2 separate regions of the Homo sapiens genome follow, and region 2 is linked to region 1. A link means that fine-mapping ties the variant in region 1 to the expression of a gene that starts in the linked region. Tissue or cell type: whole blood. Region 1 holds a variant in brackets; the other region holds the start of a gene. All regions are shown on one strand. Distances are between the middles of the regions.

Region 1 (8,178 bases):
TATATATTCCATTAATTCTGTCCCTCTAGAGAACCCTGACTAATACGCTCAGTGACTCACACCTGTAATCCCAGTACTTTGGGAGGCTCAGGCAGGAGGATGGCTTGAGCCCCAGAGTCTTCTTCTTCTCCTTCTCCTTGTCCTTCTCTTCCCTTCCCCTTTCTCCTCTTCCTCTTCCTTCTCTTCCTCTTCCTCTTCCTCTCCTTCCTCTTCCTCTTCTTCCTCTTGTTTGTTTGAGAAAGGTTCTCCCTCTGTTGCCAAGGCTGGATTGTAGTGGCACAATTGTGACTCACTGCTTCTCAGCCTCCTGAGAGCCCAGGAGTTTGAGGCTGCAGTGAGCTATGATCACACTACCACACTCCTGCCTGGGTGACAGAGCAAGACCCTGTCTCAAAAAACAAACAAAAAACTCTGGTATGATAGAGGTGAATTGTCTGTTTTATCCTGATAATTCTGCTTACCTTAGTCCCGTGGTTCTCAACTGGGCCAATTTTGCTCCCCAAGTGACATTTGGCAATATCTGGGCAGAGGTCAAGGACGCTGCTTAACATCTTTTTTTTTTTTTTTTTGAGACACAGTTTTGCTCTTGTTGCCCAGGCTGGAGTGAAATGGCACGATCTCGCCTCACTGCAACCTCTGTCTCCCGGGTTCAAGCGATTCTCCTGCCTCAGCCTCCCGAGTAGCTGGGATTATGGGCATGCACCATCACGCCTGGCTAATTTTGTATTTTTAGTAGAGATGGGGTTTCTCCATGTTGGTCAGGCTGGTCTCAAACTCCCAACCTTAGGTGATCAGCCCACCTCAGCCTCCCAAAGTGCTGGGATTACAGGTGTGAGCCACCTCACCTGTCCTGCTTAACGTCTTAAAACACACAGGACAATTCCCCCATAAAAAATGATGACCAGCCGAAAATGTCAACAGTATCAAGGTGAAGAAATTGCCATAAAGGCTTGGTAAACAGGGATGGTATGACGACACTATTGATAGGCCACATTAAAATACTTAGGGCCATATCCATTATCCCTGTTTTTATGATTTCTTCTTTGTCCCCATGCAGTTTCAGGGGCAAAATAAGGGAGTAAGTCAGAGGTGGTTCCAAATAGACATCTGGGAATCTTAGGGTGTAATATGGCCCTCATGGAGGCCCTTGCTGAGCTTAGGGCCTGATTCTGGAATCCTAGCATTGCCAAGAGAGGCAGGCTGGCAGGTGAGAAGACAAATAATGGGAGAGCCCACATATGTTGGAATTCATTTGATGGTATCTAAGCTGGGGTGATTGTCCCCACTAGCATTACATGACTATGGATCCAGTTATTTGGAGAAATCCATTTCCTCCACAGGGAATATATACTACATTAGAACCAAAGATGGAATCCTTAGTAAATGGAATCATTTGGCAAAATTCAGTTGTCTGAAATTTTTGCATAAAATTCTCTTTTTTATTTTCATTGAGCCAAATAAATAAAGTATCAGGTATTTACTGGGGTCACCATTCTTTGATTCATTGATTTTTTTTTTCAGACAGGATCTCGCTGTCACCCACGTTGGAGTGCAGTGGCATAATCTCAGTTCACTGCAACCTCCACTTCCTGGGCTTAAGTGATTCTCCCACCTCAGCCTCCCAAGTAGCTGGAAATACAGGCGCGTGCCACCATGCCTCCATTTTCTTTCTTTTTTTTTTTTTTTAATTGATCATTCTTGGGTGTTTCTCGCAGAGGGGGATTTGGCAGGGTCATAGGACAATAGTGGAGGGAAGGTCGGCAGATAAACAAGTGAACAAAGGTCTCTGGTTTTCCTAGGCAGAGGACCCTGCGCCTTCCGCAGTCTTTGTGTCCCTGGGTACTTGAGATTAGGGAGTGGTGATGACTCTTAAGGAGCATGCTGCCTTCAAGCATCTGTTTAACAAAGCACATCTTGCACCGCCCTTAATCCATTTAACCCTGAGTGGACACAGCACATGTTTCAGAGAGCACAGGGTTGGGGGTAAGGTCACAGATCAACAGGATCCCAAGGCAGAAGAATTTTTCTTAGTATAGAACAAAATGAAAAGTCTCCCATGTCTACCCGCCTCTACACAGACACGGCAACCATCCGACTTCTCAGTCCTTTCCCCACCTTTCCCCCCTTTCTACTCCACAAAACCGCCATTGTCATCATGGCCCGTTCTCAATGAGCTGTTGGGTACACCTCCCGGACGGGGCGGCTGGCCGGGCGGGGGGCTGACCCCCCCACCTCCCTCCCGGACGGGGTGGCTGCCGGGCGGAGACGCTCCTCAATTCCCAGACGGGGCGACTGCCGGGCGGAGGGGCTCCTCACTTCTCAGACAGGGCGGTTGCCGGGCGGAGGGGCTCCTCACTTCTCAGACAGGGCGGTTGCCGGGCGGAGGGTCTCCTCACTTCTCAGATGGGGCGGCCGGGCAGAGACGCTCCTCACCTCCCAGATGGGGTCACGGCCGGGCAGAGGCGCTCCTCACATCCCAGACGGGGCGGCGGGGCAGAGGCGCTCCCCACATCTCAGACGATGGGCGGCCGGGCAGAGACGCTCCTCACTTCCTAGATGGGATGGCGGCCGGGCAGAGACGCTCCTCCCTTTCCAGACTGGGCAGCCAGGCAGAGACGCTCCTCACTTCCCAGACGGGGTGGCGGCCGGGCAGAGGCTGCAATCTCGGCACTTTGGGAGGCCAAGGCAGGCGGCTGGGAGGTGGAGGTTGTAGCCAGCCGAGATCACGCCACTGCACTCCAGCCTGGGCACCACTGAGCACTGAGTGAACGAGACTCCGTCTGCAATCCCGGCACCTCGGGAGGCCGAGGCTGGCGGATCACTCGCGGTTAGGAGCTGGAGACCAGCCCGGCCAACGCAGCGAAACCCCGTCTCCACCAAAAAAATACGAAAACCAGTCAGGCGTGGCGGCGCGTGCCTGCAATCGCAGGCACTTGGTAGGCTGAGGCAGGAGAATCAGGCAGGGAGGTTGCAGTGAGCCGAGATGGCGGCAGTACAGTCCAGCATCAGAGGGAGACCGTGGAAAGAGAGGGAGAGGGAGACCGTGGGGAGAGGGAGAGGGAGGGGGAGGGGAGGGGGAGAGGGAGAGGGAGAGGTGCATTTTCTTATAAACCCAATTTCCTCTTTAGTGCAACTCTACCATTTGAAAGGAACCTTTCTATTGTAATTTACAAGCTGTGAATAACCGCTATGTAATTCTTTCCAAGGATTAATAAACTGAGAGAGGATTTGAACCAACAGAGGTAGGGGAAGATTAGAAGGGGGATGCAAGTGGCCACAGATCTTAGAGGCGGCCAGCAGAGGGCGCTGCTCCAAGGTGAAGGTCGCACCCTGAGAGGCCATCCTTTTTTGTAGGACCAGACTGGGGTGTAAGGACAGTGCCTCATCCTCACAACGACAGACCCGTGTTCTGGGTGTGGATTTGCCTCCCTTGCCTGCGGGACTTCTGCTAGCACTGCCGTTCCTAGACTTAGACCATGCTAGAATGAGTCCAGGAACCGAGGAGAGGAGATGGGAGTGGCTCCTCCCACTGTGGCCCCTAATAATTCACATGAAGAATTTTTGCTTTCCTTGCCAGGGACCCGGGACTCAGTGGGTCCAGAGGTCCTAGTGCCAAAGGAAGAAATGTGTAGATCAGGAAATACTATTATGGTTTTATTCAACTGGAAGCCGAGGCTGGCCATTTATT[GTATT/G]TATTTATTTATTTATCTATCTATTTATTTATTTATTTAGAGACAGAATCTCACTCTTGTTTCCCAGGCTCCCAGGCTCAAGAGATCCTCCTACCTTAGCCTCCTGAGTAGCTGGTACTACAGTCGCATGCCACCTTGCCCAGCTAATTTTTTTTTTTTTTGAGACGCAGTCTCATTTTGTTGCCCAGGCTAGAGTGCAGTGGCGCGGTCTTGGCTCACTGCAACCTCCACCTCCTGGGTTGAAGCGATTCTCCTGTCTCAGCCTCCGGAGTAGCTGGGATTACAGGCATGTGCCACCGCGCCTGGCAATTTTTTTTTTTTTAGTAGAGGCGGGGTTTCACCATGTTGGCCAGGCTGGTCTCAACTCCTGACCTTGTGATCCGCCTGCCTCAGCCTCCCAAAGCACTGGGATTGCAGACATAAGCCACCGCGCCTGTTTTTTTTGTTTTGTTTTGTTTTCTGACAGAGTCTCTGTCACCCAGGCTGGAGTGCAGTGGTGTGATCTCAGCTCACTGCAACCTCTGCCTCCTGGGTTCAAGCGATTCTCCTGCCTTAGCCTCCCAAGTAGCTGGGATTATAGGCGCACACCACTATGCCCAGCTAATTTTTGTATTTTTAGTAGAGGTGGGGTTTCACCATGTTGGCCAGGCTGGTCTCAAACTCCCGACTTCAGGTGATCCACCCACCTCGGCCTCCCAAAGTGCTGGGATTATAGGTGTGAGCCATCAAGCCCAGCCCTGCCCAGCTAATTTTTACACTATGGGCAAGTATGCTGCCCAAGAGTGCTCTGGAACTCCTGGGCTCAAGTGATCTTCCTTCCTCGGCCTCTCAATGTGCTTGGATTACAAGCATGAGCCACCTTGCCCAGCCGAAGCTGGCCATTTAAAGTTCCTCATGCTGCTGAATCAATAAGGATGGAAGGCGGCTACTATTATGGGCTAAGTGTTTGCATCCTCCCCAAATTCTTTTTTTTTTTTTTTTTTTGAGATGGAGTTTTGCTCTTGTTGCCCAGGCTAGAGTGCAGTGGCGCGATCTCTGCTCACTGCAACCTCCACCTTTCAGGTTCAAGTGATTCTCCTGCCTCAGCCTACCGAGTTAGCTGGGATTACAGGCATACGCCACCACACCCGGCTAATTTTGTATTTTTAGTAGAGATGGGGTTTCTCCATGTTGGTCAGGCTGGTCTCAAACTCCCGACCTCAGGTAATCTGCTGACTTCAGCCTCCCAAAGTGCTGGGATTACCAGCATGAGCCACCGCGCCCGGCCCCCAAATTGTTTTTTGTTTTTTTTTTTTGAGACGGAGTCTCGCTCTGTCACCCAGGCTGGAGTGCAGTGGCATGATCTTGGCTCACTGCGAGCTCTGCTTCCTGGGTTCACGCCATTCTCCTGCCTCAGCCTCCCGAATAGCTGGGACTACAGGCGCCCGCCACCACGCCTGGCTAATTTTTTGTATTTTTAGTGGACACGGGGTTTCACCGTGTTAGCCAGGATGGTCTCGATCTCCTGACCTCGTGATCTGCCTGCCTCAGCCTCCCAAAGTGCTGGGATTACAGGGGTGAGCCACCACACCCGGCCTCGGCCCCCAAATTCTTATGTTGAAGCCCTCACCTCCATGTGATGGTATTAGAAGGTGGGGCCTTTGGGACGTAATTAGGCTGACAGTGCCCCATGATGGGATGAGTGTCTTAAAAGAAAAGACCAGGTGGTCTGGCTAGTGGCTCACCCCTGAAATCGCAGCACTTTGGGAGGCCAAGGTGGGTGGATCACTTGAGATCAGGCGTTTGAGACCAGCCTGGGCAATATGGTGAAAAGCCATCTCTACTAAAAATACAAAAATTAGCTGGGCGTGGTGGCGCAAGTCTGTAATCCCAGCTACTTGGGAGGCTGAGGTGGGAGAATCGCTTGAACCCAGGAGGTGGAGGTTGCAGTGAGCCCAGATCATGTCATTGCACTCCAGCCTCCAACCTGGACAGAGAGAGCATCTGGAGAGTCTCTGTCTCAAAACAAAAAGAAAAAAAAAAGAAGAGACCAGAGAGCCTTTCTTCTCTTTGTCCACCAAGTGAAGATATGGCAAGAAGGCAGCCATCTGCAAGCTAGGAAAAGAGCCCTTGCCAGCACCCAATTGTGCTATCACCCTGATATGGGACTTCCCAGCCTCCAGAACTGTGAGTAATCAATGTCTATTGTTTAAGCCACCCAGTATGTAATACTGAGCTGACTAAAACCATCACCGAACTAGCCTCTTTACATATGATTAGCAAGAGGAAAATGGCTCTGTTACTTAATGGAGGAAGGAGGCTATGTCTGAAAGCCAAAAATTCACTGGGGACACATCTTAGCAGGCTCTTGACCCTAAGACCTGGTTAATGGAAAAGTAGAGCAACCCAATAAAAACAAGACCACCAAGAAGTCAGGTCTTATGGAATAAAGTATTGAGTGTCCCTATGAGGCACAGAACCCTTCGAAAGGGGATTGGAAGAAGTGGTGAAGAAGGCGGCTATGATTATCAACTTAGACTTCATCGCCATTTGTAGAAGGAGGCTTCTAACAGCTATGTTTTATGTTAATTGGCTCTTTTCTCTTCTTTTTTCTTTCAACCTTATATTAAGAGCACTGGCAGAAGCTAGCGGTTTTGGCATCCTGTAATTATTAGCTGTATAACCTTGGCCAAGTAACTCAACCTTTCTGTGCCTCAGTTACTCATCTGTAAAACAGGGTAATAAGTCTCAACCTCGTACTTATGTTGTTATAAAGATTTAACACTAGGCTGGGCATGGTGGCTCACACCTGTAATCCCAGCACTTTGGGAGGCCGAGGAGGGTGGATCACCTGAGGTCAGGAGTTCAAGACCAGACTGGCCAACATGGCAAAACCCTGTCTCTACTAAAAATACAAAAAATTAGCTGGGTGTGGTGGCACGTGATTGTAATCCCAGTTACTCGGGAGGCTGAGGCAGGAGAATTGCTTGAACTAAACCTGGGAGGCGGAGGTTGCAGTGAGCCAAGATCGTGCCACTGCACTCTAGCCCAGGCAACAGAGTTAGACTCTGTCTCAAAAAAAAAAAAAAAAAAAAAGTAACACTTTGAACAAAAAAGAAAAAAATAATAAAATTTAAAAAAGATTTAACAATTGGGCCAGGCATAGTGGCTCATGCCTGTAATACCAGCACTTTGGGAGCCTGAAGAGGGAGGATTACTTGAACCCAGGAGTTCCAGACCAGCCTGGACAACAAAGCAAGACTTTGTTTCTACTTAAAAAAAAAAAAAAAACACCAAAGTCAGGTGTGGTGGTACACACCTGTGATCCCAGCTACTTGGGAGGCTGAGATGGGAGGATCCCTTGAGCCTTGGAGGTTGAGGCTGCAATGAGCCATGATCATACCACTGCACTCCAGCCTAGGCGACAGAGTGAGGCCCATGTCAAAAAAAAAAAAAATGATCCCCAACATTTAGCAGCTTAAAACAAAAAACATTTATTATATCACACTTTCTGTGGGCCAGGAATCTGGGAGGGACTTAGCTGGGTGGTTCTGCTCAGTTCTCTTGGGATGTTTCAGTCAAGCAGTGGCCTGGGGCTGCACTCTTATCTGAAGACTCAATTGGGAGAAAATATGCATTCAAGGTCACTCATTGGTTGTTGGCAGGCTGTAGTTCCTTACTGAATATTGGTTGAAGACTTCATTGGCTTACTACCTGGACTTCTCCATAGACTGCTTGAATGTCCTCCCCACATAGCTAGAGTGAATGACTAAAAAAGAGAGAGAACACACACAGCCCAGGTAAGAGTTCAGTCTTTCTAAGTCATTATATGAAAGAGATTCTTTTTTTTTTGAGATGGAGTCTCGCTCTGTCGCCAGGCTGGAGTGCAGCGGCACGATCCCAGCTCACTGCAACCTCTGCCTCCTGGGTTCAAGTGATTCTCCTGCCTCAGCCTCCCAAGTAGCTGGGATTACAGGCGTGTGCCACTATGCCCAGCTACTTTCTGTATTTTTAATAGAGATGGGGTTTTACCATGTTGGCCAGGATGGTCTTGATCTCTTGACCTTGTGATCCACCTGCCTTGGCCTCCCAAAGTGCTGGGATTACAGGCGTGAGCCACCACGCCTGGCCGAAAAAGATTCTTGCACACACATGTTTATAGTAGCACTATTCACAATTGTAAAAATGTGGAACCAGTCCAAATGCCCATCAATCAATGAGTGGCTAAAGAAACTGTGGTATAGATATACAGTGGAATACTACTCAGTCATAAAAAGGAATGAATTAATGGCATTTGCAGCAACCTGGACAGGATTGGAGACTATTATTCTTTTTTTTTTTTTTTTTTTTTTTTTGAGATAGAGTCTCACTTGGTCACCCAGGCTGGAGTGCAGTTGTGCAATCTTGGCTCACTGCAAGCTCTGCCTCCTGGGTTCACACCATTCTCCTGCCTCAGCCTCCCAAGTAGCTGAGACTACAGGCGCCTGCCACCACGCCCGGCTAATTT
Region 2 (8,178 bases), 60 kb before region 1:
CTACTCATTTTCTAACTTCCAGAATTTTCCTCAACAGGAAACACTCACGTAACAAAGAGTGCTCTGCAGGTTTAACCAGAGAAATAACATGTGTAGGCAGGAAGAAAGAAAATCAGACAAAAATTTAACATCTCACGTTGGTAAAGCACCAAAGTCAAATACGAATGTTCTGAACGTGGCTTTCAGAAAAGATGCAAGAAAACTTCTAAAATACTTCACTTCAGTGGACTCATATAGATGGAAAGACCGAAAATCCCACCCTACCATAAAGGCTCTAATAATTCTTAACTGATCATTCTTTTAACTGGTCACAATCACAGACACTGGTATATACTCAAATGAGGTGGCCATCAGTGACAACCATCTTCACCATAATATAGACATTAAGAACCTTTGTAACATTTAATGTTTCCCTCCAAGTAGTTCAAAAAATAAAAAGTCAATCACCTCAAATTATGAGGTACTAACAAATACACCAAATATGCTAAAGGTCGAAGGAACGGCACACTTTGTTGCATAAACCTAGTGGAAATCCAATTCAGAATTTCATGACTGAAGGTAGTTATTCCACATTTATAATACATTTTTTAAATTCCCAAGGGATGAGCATTTTTACCTTGCCTTATTTTTAGAACTACACATCACACTGCACATATCACATGACATGATGTAACTGTTAGCAAAGAAAATGGTCCAAACCATTGACAATGTACATGGTAAATCAGGATCAATGCATACTCAAGAACCACATTTCGTATTTACTTTAAAAAAAAAGTTTCTTAATTCAAAATGTTTTTTCAAATTGAAAAAATGTCTAGTAACCTATGTAGAAAAAACCAGAAATGTACTTCGTATTTTATAAAATAGGAGTTTACCCAATTATGGGAAAAACTGATATAAAGAAACAGATAAAGGAATAACATACTTCTAAAACTACAGGATTAAAAGTAAAAATTTTCTAGATCAACACCGAAATGCTAATAAATACACTTAGCATTAGGCACAAAACAATTACTACTCAAAAGTATTCACTGTTGATAGGTTAAAAAAATAGTTTTAACTGACAACGCCTGTAGACAATTGAAATTTTCTAAATTGGTCAGACAGCATGCTAGAAAAGGAACCAAGTAGAGCCTATAGGAAAGGGGAAAGGGAAAACACACCCACTTAAGCCTTTGTAAATAGTGGTCCTTTAACTGACCCAAAAAGCAGAGAAAACAGAAATTACAGACCATCCTGACAAATGGAAAACATATTCTAACGTACTAGTTTCCATACTTGAAAGGACTTTCAAAATGAAGTTCAGTAGCAATCTATAACTATATCATGATTATGCAAGGCAAAGATTATGTAATTTTATCGTTTATTTTAAAATGTTCTCCGACTCTAAAACTAAAACAAGTAAAACGTTTTGATCTCTCCAAAGCGAAAAGGAAAGGTTCCTCTGAGCTGCAATTTAAAAATATAAACACACACCCCAAAACAAACAAAAAAACACAATGATTGCTAGCCACGTGACAAAGGAGATGGCAACACCAGGATTGTGAATGGAGGGGAGGGAGGCGAGGCTGGAGGAAGAGAGATTTCTCGGAACTTTGGGGACCGCGGCAGTCGGTCTGCCGACCCTAGGAGCACTAAACTCCAGCCCCTACGAGTTGTGCTTCTAACACCCTCAAGTACAGTTTTATTAATAAGTCACAGAAAATGCTCCAGTGACCTCCAGGATAAAGGGGGGTGGGGGGGACCGAGGAAAAGGAAAGAGAGCAATTTAAAGTGGCGCCATCATGTCACCCCTTCTCCCCTAAAGCAATCAGTAAGCAATAGTTAAGTAGCACGTTTCTCTATAAATCCACATTGGGATTCCAACATTGGAAAACGAGGATTTTTAAGTAAGACACGGGAGTAGCGCTGTTTATCGTATGGAAAACAAACTATTTGCTAAGAATCAAAAGACCGTCAGCCGGAAAACAGGCCCCCAAAAAGGCAGTTAAGATTCCAACTCACTTAAAAGCAAATAAATCCCTCTTCCTCTTTAGTTTAAAAAAAAAAAAAGTCCGCCTGAGGGAGACTACATCTGAAAACGTAAGTGACCTGAATTTACAGGCAACAAAAATAATAAATGAAACAATCAGAGTTGTGATACAAACCGTGCAACGCGCCAAGATGTGTGTTTCGAGCAGAGAAAGGCCTTTTGCAGTCAAGAGAAGTTCAAGGCGAGAGCCAGAGTTTGTTTGGGGGGTTCTTTTACGGGAATAAATCATGTTCTTCAGGCCGCCTTTTTAAATAGAACGCCAAAGGAAAAGCTGGCGAACGAGGCGGCAGCTCCTGGGGAAGGGCCCCCGCACACCCCCGCCCTTGGGGCGACTCCCAGCCCGGACCCGCAGCAGGGAAGCCCGGAGAGGCCATTTAAAGTTCCGGGGGATTTTTCTACCCTGCCCTGCCTTTCTAGTTACAACTAACAAAGAGAGAGAGAAATGGGAGCCACAGGGAGAGCGAGGAGAAGGAGAAAGGGCAGCAGGAGGAGGAGGAGAGGAGCAGCAGCAGCACCTACCACGTGATGGAGGAGCGTAGCCCGGGCGGATTCAGCCCCACAAAATGGGCGCAGTTTGCAAACAGCCCCCCGGCCTGGGCGCCGAGGGCCAGCGGCGGGCGGGGGCGCGCGACGGCGGCTCCGGCCCGGGCCCGCCGCTCTCCTCCCCCCGACGCCCGGAGCCGCCCTGACTTTCCGGGCGGGGGGGCGAGGCAGAGGGGGAGGGGAAGGCGGCGGCGGGGAGCGGCTGCTTTTTCTTCTCTTTCGGGCCCTTTCCCGGCCTTGCTCCGCACCGACGGGGCCCGAGCACGGCTGGAGACCGCAGCCCGGCCGGGAGGGCGGGCGGGCGGGGGCAGAGAGTGAAACCGCCCCCCCGCCCCGCACAAACAAGCACCGCCGTCTGCAGCCCGAACCCGCACCCAGGCCGCCACCCCCGGCCGCCTCTTTCCAGCCGGGGAGCGCGCTTCAGCCGCCCCCCGCGCCGCCGCGGCGAGACGAGTCGGCTTCGCTACGGTGCTCGGTTCTCCCGCCGGCTCGGCGAGCGGTGGCGGCGGTGGCGGCGGCACTGGGAAAATGGCGGCCGAGCTCCTTTTCCCTCCCCCCCTTTAATCTGAAGCGGAGGGAGAATGGAGCGAGCGAGCAAGCGGGCGAGCGCCGGGGACACGGGGAGGAGGGACAGCAGCGCCTCCGCCGGCTGCGGCTGCGGCGGCGAAGGGCCGCTCCACCCCGGCGCGCCGCCAGGGGGCGCCCGCCGCGCCGCCCCCGCGGGCCGCCAGGAGGCGCGGCCGCCGCCGCCTCAGTCATGGCTCCTCGCCGTGGCCGATGTTTTTGTACCTCCATCTGCGGAGGCCGCGGCGCCCGGCCCCAGCTGCCCCGGACGTGCGGCGACGGCACGCAGCACTGCGGCAGGGGGAAGCCAGCCCTCGCTGCGGCCGAGGTGAGTCTAACCTGAGGCACTGACGCCGTCACATGCCCTCCGTGCTGGGGCCGGCGGTGCGGCTCGCCAGTTGAGGGGCAGGGCGGGCCGGCGCCGCGGAGCGAGAGGACGTGAGCGAGGAACTGTTTGCACTGTGTAGTAAAGAGGGTAAGGCCGTCGGCACCACACTATTCCAAGGCTAACCCTGCAGAAAGCTCCCTGACCAGTGAAGCGGCTTCCGCCGCCCGCCCTTTGTCCCTAGCAGCCAGCCTCCGTATACTGCAGCACGGCTGGGCACTAGCCCCAGCACCGCGCTCCGCAGCCACCAGAGTTGGGCGGGGTGGGGAGGGTGCACGTAGTCACTGCGCAGGCCCCAGCCAGGGCCCGCGCCGGGCCAGCCCGGGAAGGGACAGCCGGGAGCCAGAGGGGAAGTGATGGCCCCGCCGGCGCCGGGCCCGCTGGGAACTGTAGTTTTCGTGAAGAAACACGCGTCTTGTTTTGGGTGTCATGGCTTGGCAGATCCGCCAAAACAGGCAAATGGCATTACACAATGAGTATTTATGCTTCCTGCCGCCACCAAAAGGAAGTTCACTGCCATGCTAAAAGTTTAACAAAGAACTCCATAAAGAAACACAAGTCTCACAACAAAAAGCCAACTTCCCACCTCGTTACCAGAGTTGGTTTAAAGTGGTGGCACCTTATCATTTCTCATGACCAGTTTATCAGTACAGAACTTTATATTGTCCCCAAAATAGGACCTTTAAAATAATGGAACCTTTCCTAGACTTAAAGAATTCATAAACATAATGTAATACAAAGTGTCACACAAAGTGTAATTCTACCACCCTTTAAAGTTGCCAAAAGATGAGTGGAGTATCTTGAGATTTAAAAGACTAATCTAGGATTCATCAAAACTGGCTTAAATGACTGAAGAAAAAATCGTTCAAATCATTAAATCATCAAATTCGGCAGATAAGAAGGGTATGTATGCTCTACTACCAAAAAGGAAGACGCAAAATGCTTCACACTTTTTTGTGGCTTACCAGAACCAATATCCGGCATTATACGTCACTTCTGCTTATCAAAAAACACCCTCACAGTCGTTACAGAACGGTTTTAGTCTTCCCACAAAGTTACACTAACTCACCTGCCCCTGCAACATCTGCACCTAGGTTTCTGCGAATTTCCATTTGTACTCCTAAAATCACACTCTCAAGCATAGTCATAGTTCTCAAATACCAAAGGCAGGCAGTTTGGAGTCATAGGGTCAAATTACACAAAGAATAAACTAATATTTGTATACACATCCAAAAGAGGTCTTTAGTCTTGGATTTTTAATTTACAACCCTGGGGAAAAACTTTGACTTTTTTATTGTACACACATACACACATAAATAGTAATTCCACAAAATACAGTAGAAGGGTATTGGACCAACAGATGGCGAACTAGAGCCCCAATCTGAGGCTCCTGAAATCTAAATTAGCAGAATGAAAAATACCAAATAAGGCAAAGCCCTTTGCAGCGTATACTTAAATATTAAATTCAGACACACCATAACAAAATAATCTTACTGCTGCTCCAAATTTTTAAGACTGAACTGTCAGATTTAATTAGGCAACCAAATAAGCAAGATTATATGAAATATATTTTTCTAATGGATTAGGAGAAAACTGGAAAATGCTCATTTTTAAAACCATGTATTTGGGGGAACTATAAATTCCAGTTTCCCCTTTCTCTCATTGCTTAGTGCAAGAGTCAAGAGTTCACAGGGTTTATGGCACTTAAATCAGTCAACCTGTTGTATATTCTTATCTAAAATCAGACATCTTTCTTATTAGGCATCCACTTGTACTTTTATTTTTTTGACAGGGTCCTGCTCGGTTGCCCAGGCTAGAGTGCAGTGGTGCAATCAAACTCACTGCAGCCTCCCAGGCTCAGGCGATCCTACCTCAGCCTCTTGAGTAGCTGGCACTACAGGCATATGCCACCATGCCCAGCTGTTATTTTTTTCACTCCTTTTTGTTTTGGTAGATACAGAGTCTCCCTATGTTGCCCAGGCTGGTCTCGAACTCCTGGACTCGAGTGCTGGCATTACAGGCATGAGCCACCACACAAAAATCTTATGAAGAGAAACAAATTTTCTTAAATTTCCCCCCAAAAAATAGTGGATGTCCAAAAGGCTGATTGAAAACACCTACATACAAAATAAAACAAACAAACAAAAAAAGATTTAAAGAAAAAGGCCTGGTGCAGCAGCTCACTCCTGTAATCCCAGCACTTTGGGAGGGTGAGGTGGGAGGATCACTTGAGCTCCGGAGTTAGAGACCAGCCTGGGCAACAGAGTGAGACCCTATCTCTACAAACAAAATTTTAAATTAGCCAAGTGTGGTAGCATGTGCTTACAGTCCCAGCTACTCCAGAAGCTGAGGGGATTGCTTGAGCCTGGGAGGTCAAGGCTGCAGTGAGTCATGATCATGCCATTGTAGTCCAACCTGGGCAACAGAGCGAGACCATCTCAAAATGAAAAGTGATAAAAAAATAAAAACACCAACATATTTCAAATCACTCTTGGAATAGTCATGTTGACTCTCCAATATCCACTCTATTCTGATTAGTTTTAACCCATTCTCTTTGCCAATGATTGGTTAGGAATGGCCATGAGATGTGAGTAGAAGCCCCCTGGACAGCCTCCAAAAGAGAACTGTGAGAAAAGGTTCTTCAATCCTAAAAATGATGGAGGAAAAAACAGTCCCTCTTCCTCAGACAGTGACACCTCAAACTGCTACAGTCACCTTTGCAGCAAGCCTGAAGATGCCACCAACATCAAAGGGAATAGAGAGTTGGTCCTTGGTGATAGCATTAAGCCACTGTATCAACCAATCCTGACAATTTGTATGACTTCTGGATTTCCAGCCACATTACAACAATGTAACAATAAACATTTATTAATTGCTTAAGCCAATTTGAGTTAGGTTCCTTATATAATAAATGAAGTCAAAAAACAATGATTGAGTTCTAATGTTTTTTAGTATTTGTATCTTACTTTATGATTACAGTATTTTATATAACTAATCTTATTATTTCTTCCTCAGAAAAGACATTCCATGGCCAGGCATGGTGGCTCACACCTATAATCCCAGCACTTTGAGAGGCCAATGTGAGAGTATTGCTTGAGCCCAGGAGTTTGAGAACAGCCCAGGGAAAACAGCAAAACTTCATCTCTTCAAAAAATAAATAATAAAAAAATTTAGCCGGGGGTGGTGGCATACACCTGTAGTCCAAGCTACTCAGAGGCTCAGGCAGGAGGATCACTTGAGCCCAGGAGGTCAAGGCTGCAGTGAACCATGATCACGCCACTGCAAACCAGCCTGGGCAACAGAGCAACACCCCGTCTCCAAAAAAAGAAAAAGAAAGGAAGGGAGGAAGGAAAGAAAGAAAAAAGGAAAAGGTGTTCCCTCTTACACACAGCTCTGTATCCATCCATCTTTGTCTGTGTTCTCTCTACCTAGAAAAAGAGGACCATCCCTCATTACCACCATTCCTTGTTAATTCCTCTCTCCAATCCACCTACAACTCATGTTATCCTCTTATATTCCACCACACCACTGTTATCGTCTACTCACTTCACTTGACAATAATGTAGGCTGGGCGTGGTGGCTCATGCCTGTAATCCCAGCACTCTGGAAGGCCAAGGCAGGCAGATCACCTGAGGCCAGGAATTCGAGACCAGCCTGGCCAACATGGTGAAACCCCGCCTCTACTAAAAATACAAAAAGTAGCCAAGCATGGTGGTGCACGCCTGTAGTTCCAGCTACTCGGGAGGCTGAGGCATGAGAATCACTTGAGCCCGGAAGGCAGAGGTTGCAGTGAGCCAAGATCACACCACTGCACTCCAGCCTACGCGACAGAAGGAGACTGTGTCTCAAAAAAAGAACCAATAATGTACAGAGTTGGCACTACATTACCCTTGGTTAAATGCTGTCTGTAATTCCTCTGAGTTTGTTTTCATATACCAGTCTTGCCACCTCAAGCCAGCCTGAAAGCCCTTGCAGGCAGGAACTGTGGTTGTTCTAATTTAAGATCTGTAACTCATCTATAGATAATAAACGTATTCCAAAAAGGCACTCTCTACCTTCCCTGCCACAGACCTTCTAAACAAGCCAGAAATTCCTAAACAGAATAATCTCACAAATTCAGTACCTCGTATGTCCAAACTAATCTCAAAAGGACAATGAATAACTTTTTTTGCACTTAAGAAAAAGCAATTATTATATATTAACTCAGGACAAGTTCTAAAGCCTAGGCCATTTAGTTTCAAAAGCACAGGGGCCCATTTTTTTGGTTACTTACCTAGGACCTAGCCCAGGGCCTGGCACAAAAGAGACACATCATAAGAACTGACTGAATAAATGAAAAAGGTAGAGTGTAGTACTTAAGCACACAGGACCTAGGTAGCCCGATTCTAATCCTGCCTCCCTCACTTATTCTTTGTGTTACTTTGGGCAAAGTACGTATTCTGCTCTGTAAAATGGAGATAGTAATACCACCTACCTCTTAAGTTTAACTATTATTATTAGTGAATGAAGCTATTTTCCACAGTTCTAAACTTTAAAGGTTAAAATCTGAGTGAAGCAAAAATCAGCACCTCTTTCCTAATTCAAACTTCAAACACCTATCTACTTAGGACTTGGACCTACTTTAATTAAAAAAAAAAAAAAAAAAAAAAAAAAA

Evidence for each region. PIP is the estimated chance that this variant, and not a neighbour inherited with it, causes the effect.
Region 2: it holds the start of KANSL1-AS1, and the variant in region 1 is fine-mapped to the expression of KANSL1-AS1 in whole blood (INTERVAL, PIP above 0.99).

What each region holds. Positions count from the first base shown.
Region 1 is chr17:46,250,707-46,258,884 of GRCh38, forward strand. It overlaps a transcript of LRRC37A not described here. Among named protein-coding and RNA genes, the nearest start is that of LRRC37A, 40 kb to the right of the region's middle. The variant GTATT/G (reference allele first, on the strand shown) is at 3,689.
Region 2 is chr17:46,190,272-46,198,449 of GRCh38, forward strand. KANSL1-AS1 (KANSL1 antisense RNA 1) reads left to right here and starts at 3,302. Exons shown (of 2, transcript NR_034172.1): 1 at 3,302-3,467; 2 at 6,097-6,452. KANSL1 (KAT8 regulatory NSL complex subunit 1) reads right to left here and starts at 3,158. Exons shown (of 15, transcript NM_015443.4): 1 at 2,552-3,158.